2 separate regions of the Homo sapiens genome follow, and region 1 is linked to region 2. The links come from fine-mapping of genetic effects on gene expression. A gene starts in region 2. The other region holds a variant in brackets. All regions are shown on one strand. Distances are from middle to middle. Region 1 overlaps GFOD2 (Gfo/Idh/MocA-like oxidoreductase domain containing 2). Region 2 holds the start of ENKD1 (enkurin domain containing 1).

Region 1 (5,368 bases), 44 kb before region 2:
CTCTCCGGGAGGCCAAGGCAGGCGGCTGGGAGGTGGTTGCAGCGAGCCGAGATCACGCCACTGCACTCCAGCCTGGGCACCATTGAGCACTGAGTGAACGAGACTCCATCTGCAATCCCGGCACCTCGGGAGGCCGAGGCTGGCGGATCACTCGCGGCTAGGAGCTGGAGACCAGCCCGGCCAACACAGCGAAACCCCGTCTCCACCAAAAAAAAAACGAAAACCAGTCAGGCGTGGCGGTGCGCGCCTGCAATCGCAGGCACTCGGCAGGCTGAGGCAGGAGAATCAGGCAGGGAGGTTGCAGTGAGCCGAGATGGCAGCAGTACCGTCCAGCCTTGGCTCGGCATCAGAGGGAGACCGTGGAGGGAGAGGGAGAGGGGGAGGGGGAGGGGGAGGGGGAGAGGGAGAGGGAGAGGGAGCTCTTTATTACATTTTTAAACATTGCAAGAGCCTACTGATGGTTTTGGTGAGCTCAGTATATATGGTTTTCTATAGTATGGTTTTGATGGGCTCAGTATATATGTCTTAGTTTATTGACTGTGCAGGAACTAGGTCTGAAATCTTTCATTCTTTCAGCAAATATTTAGCACCAACTACATGTCAGACCTTGTTTTAGGCACTAGGGATATAGCAATGAACAAAACAGACAAAAAATTTGTTGTCTTCAAGGAGGATACATTCTAGCAGGGATGGTGGGGAGAGACAAACAATGGAAGAATACACCTGTTTCTGAAAAGCCAACATGGAAGTAGAGACCTGAAGGAAACGTGAGAGAGAGAGAGAAAGCCACGTGGATGTCTGCACAATAGAGGTTCTTGGATGCAGGGTATATTTTGAAGGTAGAGAGCCAGCAAGACTTGTTAATGGATCAGATGTGAAGTGTGAGAGAAAAAGAAGACTCAAGGATAACTCCAAGGTTTTAACTTGAGCATTTGAAAAGTTTGTGTTACCAGTTTCTGAGATGAAGGCATTGTGGGAAGAGTATGTTTGGTGGGGAGAAACATCAGGAGTTTAGTTCTGGACATTTTAAGTGTGAGATGCCTATTAAACATCCAAGTAGAGATGTTAATAGGCGGTTGTTTGCACCCGTCTGGAGCTTAAAGAGGACCTGGCTGATAACTTTGGGAGTCATCAGGGAATAGATAACATTTAAAAGCCATGACACTGAATGGAACCACCAAGGGAGTGAGTATAGATAGAAAAGAGAAATAGACTGGGGACTGAGCCATGGTTACTACAGTCACCATCAGGAGAAATGAGCAGAAGGAACCGAGAAGTGGTCAGAGAGGTAAGAGGAAAATCAGAAGAAATTTGTGTTGTGGAAGTCGGGTGAAGAGTGTTTCAAGGAGGTTGGAACCTGCCATGTCAGATGCTGCTGATAGGTCAAAGTGGGATGAAGGTGAGAATTGACCACTGGATTTAATTGTATTTGACAAAGATGAGATAGCTGAAGCTTGGTTATTTGTAGTATGATTTACAACCAATAATCCAGGGTTTTCAGCCATGATGCCTGAACACAGAGCATCATGAGAGAGTTGCATAATTGCAGTTTGAAGTTCTGAACATTGTACTTTTCCTTCCTACCTCTTTTGGAGTCTTCATTCTGAAGAAATGCTTTTGGGTCTGGTTACTGCTCTGGGGAAGGGGAGTGTCTGTTAATCACAAATTGGGTTTTTAATGACATTGGGCTGCTGTGCCTTTTACTGCACAACCAATGTCAATGTTTGGGTTTTTTTCATGGTGATGAAGACTTTATTCAGGACCATGGCGGCAGGTATAGGTACCTCTGCAATGAGTCTTGCAGTTGGGGAGAGAGACTGAGCTCAACTCTGAATAGAGCACAGCAAGTGGGGATTGATAGTCAAGGAGCAGGGTAGGGGTCAGTGGATAGAAAATGACTCACAATGTCAGTGTTTTTATCGTAATTGAGCCTCAGAGTGTGAAACCTTTCTCACGTGGAACTCAAAGTGCATTATAAATCTGTCATTGAACACTTTTAAAAATAAGGCTAACTGGCCGGGCGCGGTGGCTTATGCCTGTAATCCCAGCACTTTGGGAGGCTGAGGTGGGTGGATCACGAGGTCAGGAGATCGAGACCATCCTGGCTAACACGGTGAAACCCCGTCTCTACTAAAAAACAAAAAATTAGCCGGGCATGGTAGCAGGCGCCTGTAGTCCAGCTACTCGGGAGGCTGAGGCAGGAGAATGGCGTGAACCCGGGAGGCGGAGCTTGCGGTGAGCTGAGATCGCACCACTGCACTTCTCCACTTCGTCTCAAAAAACAAAG[G/A]CTAACTTTGGGAGGCCAAGGCGGGCAGATCACTTGAGGTGAGGAGTTTGAGACCAGCCCGGCCAACATGGTGAAACCCGGTTTCTACTAAAAATACAGGGCTGGCGTGGTGGCTCATGCCTATAATCCCAGCACTTTGGGAGGCCTAGGCAGGAGGATCATTTGAGCCCAGGAGTTCGAGGCTACAGTAAGCTATGATCGCCCCACTGCACTCCGGCCTGACCAACAGAGCAAGACCCTGTCTCTAAAAAAATAATAAATAAAAATACAAAAAAAATTAGCTGGGTGTCGTGGCTCACAGTTGTATCCCAGGTACTCGGGAGGCTGAGGCAGGAGAATCATTTGCACCCAGGAAACAGAGGTTGTGGTGAGCCAAGAGTGCACCACTGCACTCCAGCCTGGGTGACAGAGTGACACTCTGTCCCCAAAAAATAAAAAATAGATAAACATAAGGCTAATTTGGCTGGGCACGGTGGCTCACGCCCGTAATCCCAACACTTTGGGAGGCTGAGACGGGCGGATCACTTGAGGACAAGAGTTGAATACCAGCCTCAAGACCAGCCTGGGCAATATGGGAAACCCCGTCTCTACCAAAAATACAAAAAAAATAGCTGGGTGTGGTGGCATGTGCCTGTGGTCCTAGCTACTCAGGGGGCTGAAGTGGGAGGAATGCTTGAACCCAGGAGGCAGAGGTTGCAGTGAGCTGAGATCATGCCACTGCACTCCAGCCTGGTGACAGAGTGAGACTCCATTATAATAATAATAAGGCTAATTTATATCCTGCTGAGTCTCTCATAGCACCATTCTTTTCCTTTATAGCATTTAATCTCAAATCATAATTACATATTTATGTGATTATTTGATTATCTTATCTCTCCTCCTAGACTGTACACTCTTTGCAAGCAGAAACTATATCTGTTTGGCTTACTGAAGTATCCTGCACTTTGCTGAGGCCTGGCTCATAGTCTGTGCTTAATAAGTATTTATTAATCAATCTACATAAATTACAGGTGTCATTTTATACACAAGCACCTAAAACACCTAATCAGCCTAGCTAATGTCCCAATCTTTTTTTTTTTTTTCTTTTGAGATAGGCTCTGTTGCCCAGGCTGGAGTACAGTGGTGCAATCACAGCCCACTGCAGCCTTGACCTACTGGGCTCAAGAGATCCTCCCACCCCAGTCTCCTCTCCTGAGTAGCTGGGACTACAGGTTTGTGCCACCATGCCTAGCTAATTTTTGTATTTTTTGTGGAGAAGGAGTTTTGCCATGTTGCCCAGGCTGGTCTCAAACTCTTGGGCTCAAGTGATCCACTTGCCTCGGCCTCCCAAAGTCCTGGGATTACAGGTGTGAGCCACTGCTCTCAGCCCTACAGTTTGTTTTAAGTTAGGTTGAGGATCTGTCTCACTTCATAACTAGGGCCGTGACCCTCACCTCTGGCCCCAGTGCTTTATATTAGGATGAAATTACTGAAAAGAATTCACAGAAAAATCAAATTATCAAATGAGTCTTATTTGCATTTCAAATAAAGGGAATTCTACAGTATGGGTCTTGACACTGGCCTTTTGGAATGTGCCTGAGGGGACAGAGGTGTGCATCAAGTCTGTGGAGGTGCCTCTCAGGATGCAGTGCTCTGGAAGGTGTGGGGCTGGATCTGGGGCTAGTCTCATGGTGAGTGGCCCTTGAGGCACAGTGGAGGCTGACACTAAGTGAGGGCTTGCCACTCTTTCAGTGCCAAGTCTTATTGCCCAACCTGTATAGCTACAACTGCAAACTGATACATACCAATGCTCTATGAATAGCCATCATTAAATTTGCTTGCCAGAAATGATACGGGAGAACCCCTTTTGAACCCTCCCTTCCTCAGTATGAGTTGTTCATGAGTGGTGAGGACTTCCTAACATCTGGAGCTCAGCCACTCACCCAGTGTGACACACTGCCCAGGGAAAAGTGCCATCTTCAGATACGCTCAGCAAGTGCTGGGATTCACCAGCCTACTGGGCCTTAGCTTGAAGTTTCTTTCTCAGAAAACTTATTCTCTTGGCCCCAGCCTGTACCGATGATGTCCCCAAAAGTAAGCTTACAGGTTTTTTTGTTTTGTTTTAAAGGAAAGAGACTTCTAATTCACACATATCCATTTAGTTTGATTACAGAACTGAATTTGCAAGGTGTGAACAGGTTGTTCTATGTCCTTGGGCACAACTACTTAAGGTGATTAAAAATTAAGGTATAATTTACATACAATTAAAAACACAGATCTTAAATATTCAATTTGATGAGTTTTGACAGTTGTACCACCATGTAACCCAAGCACCAAACAAGATACAGAACATTTCCATCACTCTAGAATGTAGCCTTGTGCCTCTTTCTGTTCGATTCCCTCCGCCTCAGCCACCACCGCCACTGCCGCCTTCTGACTAGTGTTGCTATAAATAAGGCTGGCTTATTCCTGAATTTCAAAAAAGTGGAATTCTACAGTATGGGTCTTCTGTGTGTGGGCCTGCCATCTTTCACTCTACATAATGTTTTTAAGATTCATACAGGCTAGGCGAGGTGGTTCATTGTAATCCCAGCACTTTAGAAGACTGAGGCAGGGGGATCACTTGAGGCCAGCAGGTTGAGACCAGCCTGGGCAACACAGTGAGACTCACATCTCTACAAAAAAATTAATAAAATTTTTAAAAAGAAAAAAATTCATTAATAGTTAATTCCTTTTTACTGTTTTACTGTATTCCATTGTGTGACATCATAATTTATGATGTGAACATTTGTTTCTAGTGTGGGGCCATTATGAATAAGGCTGCTGTGAACATTTGTATAATTTTTTTTGTGGACTTATGTTTTTATTTTCTTAGATAAATATCTATAAGTGGAGTTGCTGTGATTGGGTTGATATATGTTTAACTATAAGAAACTGTCAATTTTCCAAAGTGGTTGTACTGTTTTACATTCCCACCAAGAATGTATGGGAGTTCCATTTGCCGCATATCCTCTCCAAACTTCAGGATTGTAAGTCTTTTTTTTTTTTTTTTGAAATGGAGTTTCACTCTGTGGCCCAGGCTGGAGTGCAATGGCGCGATCT
Region 2 (5,368 bases):
AACAGACCCTTTCTTTTCTCTGCCCCAAGTTCCTCCTTCTCACTTCCCTCTTCATCACCCAGTTAGCTGCCTGACCCTCAGATTCACCTAAACACACAGCACCAGGTCCACCCTGATTCAGTGAGGCATGGGGTGGCACAAAGGAATCTGTCATTGTCAAAGTCTCAGGTGATGCAGATGACCATTCAGGCCTCAAACCCTGCACTGTTGAGTCCTCCATCCTCTTACCCATTTCAGGCAACCTATCTGGGGAATCACAAAGTCTTTGAAAAAGAAAAATATTTATTTTCAGCAAGACCAAAGTCCCAAGTGGGGGCAGGTGCCAAATTTGCCCCCGCCACCAGAGGGCCTAGGCCCACAGGAAGCCTGAAGCCAAATTCAGGCGTGGAAGGAGGGGAGCCACCAGTGGGGCGGGACAGTCACTTGTACTGAGGAGAGAGCGGGGGGACAAGTGGAGCAGTGCAGACACTCAGCATCTTGTCGATGTCCACCTGGGTTGACTTATCCACCTCGGCCTTGTGGTCACTCACCCCCAAGCTGGGCAAGCCCCCAGGCTCCTCTCCAGCCTCCTCTCCGAGGGGAGCCAGGGCATGGGTGGGGGTCACTAGTGGACTGGGACAGGGCAAAGCGAGGCCTGGGCCCAGCTCACCTGCCAAGGGCAGCAAGGCCTGCAGTTGCTCCACACCTCCCTCCTCGGGAACCGGGGCCAGCTCTGCCTCTGCCTCCACCTCAGCCTCCCCGTCCCCCTTCCCTGCCTGGTTCAGCTCAGGGTTGCAATAGTTGACGTACTGGTACAGCGGCCGCAGGCGCTGGGCCTTTCCTGCAAAGACCCAGGGCAGGGCAGAGGCTAGAGCGCCAGGTTGTGCCATGTCGGGCCCCACAGGCAGGGGGAGAAGGAACAGTCCAGGGACTGCCACTCACGCTCCAGCCTCAATGTCTCTAAGGGTGCAGACACCATGCTGGCCACAGCGTGGAGCACGGGAGCCCCCAGGCTCTTGCGCTTCTTGGCTTTTTTGTGCTGTTTGGCAGATGGTGAGGGCTCACTCTGGCTGTCCTCTGGCTCCTCCTCCTGCAGCGGCAGCTTGGGTGGCAGCTCAGCTTCAGCCTTAAGATGGGCACGAAGGCCCGGGAGGCTGAGAGACCTGAGCCAGGGACAAGAGACTTGAGCCAGGCTCCAGCCCTGGCTCCCATTCCCTGGCCCAGGGAATAGCCCAGCCTGCCCACAGCCCCAGGGCTCGACGCCTGTCCCGTTCCTGGTCAATGAGACCCCAGGCCCAAGAGGCTTAGAGGCCAGTGAGCCCAGGCCCCTACAAGCCCTGAAGCTCCCACTCTCCTGCTGCTCCCTACACGGGGGCTCTTGAGGAACGGGAGGAGAGTGATGGTAGTGGCTGGGGACGAGAATCCTCCCTGCAGGAGTGCAGGATTTAGGAATCCTACTGTGGTGTGTGCCCCAACCCCGGGGCTGCAGCTCCTTCCCCCCGAGAGCCCCCTCACTTGACAGGCTTTCTCTTTGGACCATGACGGGGCCTCACAATGGAGACCACGGGCCTGGGGCCTCTCTCCTCTAGCGCCCCGGCATGCGGCTTGGGCCGCTCCTCCCCCAGCTTGGGTCCTTCCTCCTGGAGCTCCGACTCCGAAGCTGCGCCTGCTGGGCGCTGGTCTTCACTCTGGGTTCCGCGGGCCTCATGGGCAGGCACCAGGAACTGGTCTCCCGCCACTGGACACTAGAGATGACACACAGGCCATCGGTCACCATGGCCGGGCAAAGGACATAGGGATCCGTCACTGAACACCTAACGTTAGACACCGAAACGGGAATAAGGACACCAGCCTGTGCCCCTCCCCGCCTGGAGGGCCCAGCCTGGCAGTTAGCGGGTCGGGGCGCTCAGTTCCACCTCTCAGAGCGCTGCGGCCCTGTGTTTGAAGGTTAAACAGCCTGACGGTCACCTCGGAGGTCTGAGCGCTGCCGGGCTCCTCCGTGAGCTGTCCCTGCCCCACGACCGTCGCCTCCTGGACCCCCGGCCGCCTCTCCGCCCCTGCCGAGGCCATGGCTGCGCAGGCTGAGTGCGTCCTCGACAGCTGCTTGGGGCGGGCCCCAAGGGGCTGGATGGTGGCCCCGCGCTGACCCCGGAGACCGGCCAGCAAGCGAGGGCAGAGCTGGGAAGAGAAACCGGCGACCGCGGAGCCCACCCTCGGCCGAAACTACAAGCCCCAGGACGCTTTGCGCCGGGGTCAGTGGGCCCTGACCCCGGGGACGGAAGCCACGGTTGCCCGGCAACAACAAGTCCCGTCGGGTGGCAGCGGCTGGCGGCAAAACCTCTCGAGTGAGCCCCTGCCCGAGTGCCGCGGGGGAGAGGCCGCGAGCGGGACCGAGAAGTGGGCTGGGAGCAGAGGTCGCGGAGGTGGCGAGCGAGGCCGGGGCCCAGGCGGGGACCGGCAGGGGCCCGGGAGTGGCGGGCACGCCAGGGTCAGGGTGCCGGGCGAGGGAGGGGGCCCGGGGTTGGGGAAGGGGGCCCGGGGAGGGAGGTAAACAGCCCTGCAGGCCTCGGGGCACCGTTGCTGGGCGGCGCCGGCGGCATGTGCGAGGGCCCGTCCCGCATCTCGGGGCCCATCCCCCCAGACCCGACGCTCTGTCCTGACAACTACAGGCGGCCGACCTCGGGTGAGTCCGGGGGCTTGGCGGTGGTGCGAGGCTCAGGGGTCGGCCCTGGCTCCACCTCTGAGCCCCGGACTCCGCCCGGCTCCGCCCCACAGCTCAAGGGCGCCTCGAGGGAAACGCGCTGAAGCTGGACTTGCTGACTTCCGACCGGGCCCTGGACACCACCGCTCCCCGTGGCCCCTGCATCGGTCCCGGTGCCGGAGAGATCCTGGAGCGCGGCCAGCGCGGCGTCGGGGACGTGCTGTTGCAACTCGAGGGGATCTCCCTAGGTCCTGGGGCCTCTCTCAAGAGTAAGTCCCAGGAATGGAAGAAGGGACAGAGAGGCAGTGCGGGGTGGAAAGAGATCAAAAGCAGCTGCTCTTTCCACCCTGACGTGGGCCCAGGCTTTGCATCTCTTGAGTCTCAGTTTCCCCAACTATAAAAGGGGGAGAAATATGCTACCTTCTCGAAGGAGGTGAACTGAATGAGGTAGTTCCCACGAAGCCCTAGCTCTGCTTTATGCATTTGTTACCCATTAAATTTGTTTGTTGAGTGCCTACTGTGTGCCAGGCCATATAGATGCTAGAACACAGGGCTGAAGATAAGCATGAGCCATCACTGAGTCAAGGTGGGATACAAAGATCAAGAGATGAATGTCATATATGAGATGATCTATGGTGTACTTCAATGGTGTACTTCACTATAATAATGGAGGAAATCACCTGGGCGCAGTGGCTCACTCCTGGAATCCCAGCACTTTGGGAGGCCCAGGCGGGCAGATCACTTGAGTCCAGGAGTTGAAGACCAGCCTGGCCAACATGGTGAAACCCCATCTCTACAAAAAATACAAAAATCAGGCTGGCATGGTGGAGTGTGTCTGTAATCCCAGCTACTCGGCAGGCTGAGGTAGCCGGGGAGGTTGAGGCTACAGTGAGCTATGATCATGCCACTGTACTCCAGCCTGGGTGACAGAGTGAGACCCTGTCTCAAATAATAATAATAATAATAATAATGGAGAAAATCATCCTGTGATACTTACTACATGAGGAAGGGAACACGGTGATGAGGGAGAGTGTGTGTAGGGTCTAAGGTAGTTGGAGAGGTCAGGGAGCTCTTTCTGTAGGAGGCAGGGGGCAGGCCTGTGTGTGAACTAGTGGAAGTTGGACTGTGTGGGCCCCATGTAGGGCAGAACCTGGGGGCATCTTTTCTCCAGGGAAGGACCCTAAGGACCATGAGAAGGAGAACCTGAGGCGGATCAGGGAGATTCAGAAGCGCTTCAGAGAACAGGAGCGCAGCCGGGAGCAGGGCCAGCCCAGGCCCCTGAAAGCTCTGTGGCGCTCACCCAAGTACGACAAGGTGGAGTCCCGGGTCAAGGCCCAGCTCCAGGTACCTGCTTCAGGGAGCCAGAAGTATTATCCATTTTGTTGGCCAACAGGCAACTGTACCCTGATCTGAGTTCTGGGGTGGGAGGGAAGTCACAGAGGTAACAGAGGACTAAGAGACCCTGGCTCTGCTGCAGGGCGAGGCTGGGGGGCTTCTCAGAAGTAGTGATGGTGGGGCTGATCCTGAGGGCAAGTAGCAATTAGTCAAAGGGACAGCAGAAGAGAACATTCCCAAAAGATGGAACCTCACAGACCACAGGGCACGCAGCAGTGGAGATGCTAGGTACAGTTCACTGTGAGGAAAGAAGGGCGTGAAGTTAGGCCAAGAAGTCAGCTGGACCCACGTCAGGGGCCACAAAAGCCACTTTTCAGCCCTTATTTCTGAGGACAGTGGGAAGGGCAGGGGTATGGTGGGGGGCTCTGTCTCAGGGACTCAGTAGGAGGAGCAGGAGTGAGAGGAAAGGCAAGGTCACACAAATGTGTTGTAGCTGAAGCATCTGTGGGGTTCCCAGGGGGTGGGAGTGTGTCCAGGAAGCAGATGGAAATTCAGGCCTGGATCTCAGGAGTGAGACCTAGGAGTTATTGACGATCAGGTTGAGGACAACGAGACCAAGGAATTGACCGCCTGGATTTGAGGACTTGGAGGCCAGCTGTTAGGAGCCTTGCAGGGCTAGAGCCAGGAAGCTTGGCTAGGAAGGAGGAAAGAGAGTGGTAGCTGGGCCAGTACTGAGGTGGAAGGAGAGATGGTTTGTTGTTTTCTTAAAAATCTGACATACTCACACATTTGTGTGCTGATGAGGACAAGTGTCCCTTGAAGAGGGAAGAGGGCCCGAGGGACATGGATGCAAAGGTCAGAAGGGCCAAGATGGCCAGGGTCTTGCAGCTTGAGCCCCAGACCTCAGCCTGCCTGCTCTCTCTGCTGTGCCCTGCCCTCCAGGAGCCTGGCCCTGCCTCTGGGACAGAGTCTGCCCACTTCCTGCGGGCGCACTCCCGCTGCGGCCCTGGCCTCCCACCACCCCATGTATCTAGTCCCCAGCCAACCCCACCAGGTCCCGAAGCTAAGGTGAGAGGATGTATGGGGGCTAGATGGTGGTTGGGCAGGGCTCCTGGTGTGGGGGGGGTGTTCAGGGACACAACATAATGCTGTCTGCCCCCACCCACGCTTGCTGTGTCCTGCAGGAGCCAGGCCTGGGGGTGGACTTCATTCGTCACAATGCACGAGCTGCCAAGAGAGCCCCCCGGAGGCATTCCTGCTCACTGCAGGTCCTGGCACAAGTGCTAGAGCAGCAGCGGCAGGCCCAGGAGCACTACAATGCCACGCAGAAGGGCCATGTGCCACATTAGTAGG

The links. PIP is the estimated chance that this variant, and not a neighbour inherited with it, causes the effect. A credible set is the group of variants that fine-mapping cannot tell apart.
Region 1: its variant is the best candidate, but not a certain one, in a credible set for the expression of ENKD1 in whole blood (TOPMed, PIP 0.66).

Annotation. Positions count from the first base shown.
Region 1 is chr16:67,707,308-67,712,675 of GRCh38, reverse strand. All of the region lies in intron 1 of GFOD2 (Gfo/Idh/MocA-like oxidoreductase domain containing 2), which reads left to right. Among named protein-coding and RNA genes, the nearest start is that of GFOD2, 9.3 kb to the left of the region's middle. RefSeq lists enhancers at 1,790-2,567, 2,568-3,346. The variant G/A (reference allele first, on the strand shown) is at 2,288.
Region 2 is chr16:67,663,652-67,669,019 of GRCh38, reverse strand. ENKD1 (enkurin domain containing 1) reads left to right here and starts at 2,270. Exons shown (of 7, transcript NM_032140.3): 1 at 2,270-2,662; 2 at 2,755-2,949; 3 at 3,852-4,024; 4 at 4,958-5,083; 5 at 5,200-5,363. The coding sequence starts at 2,578. It overlaps C16orf86 (chromosome 16 open reading frame 86), which reads right to left and starts at 2,206. Exons shown (of 4, transcript NM_001012984.3): 1 at 1,948-2,206; 2 at 1,495-1,724; 3 at 922-1,142; 4 at 265-820. The coding sequence starts at 2,049. The coding sequence ends at 420. RefSeq lists silencers at 1,839-1,888, 1,969-2,018, 2,039-2,088, 2,429-2,698.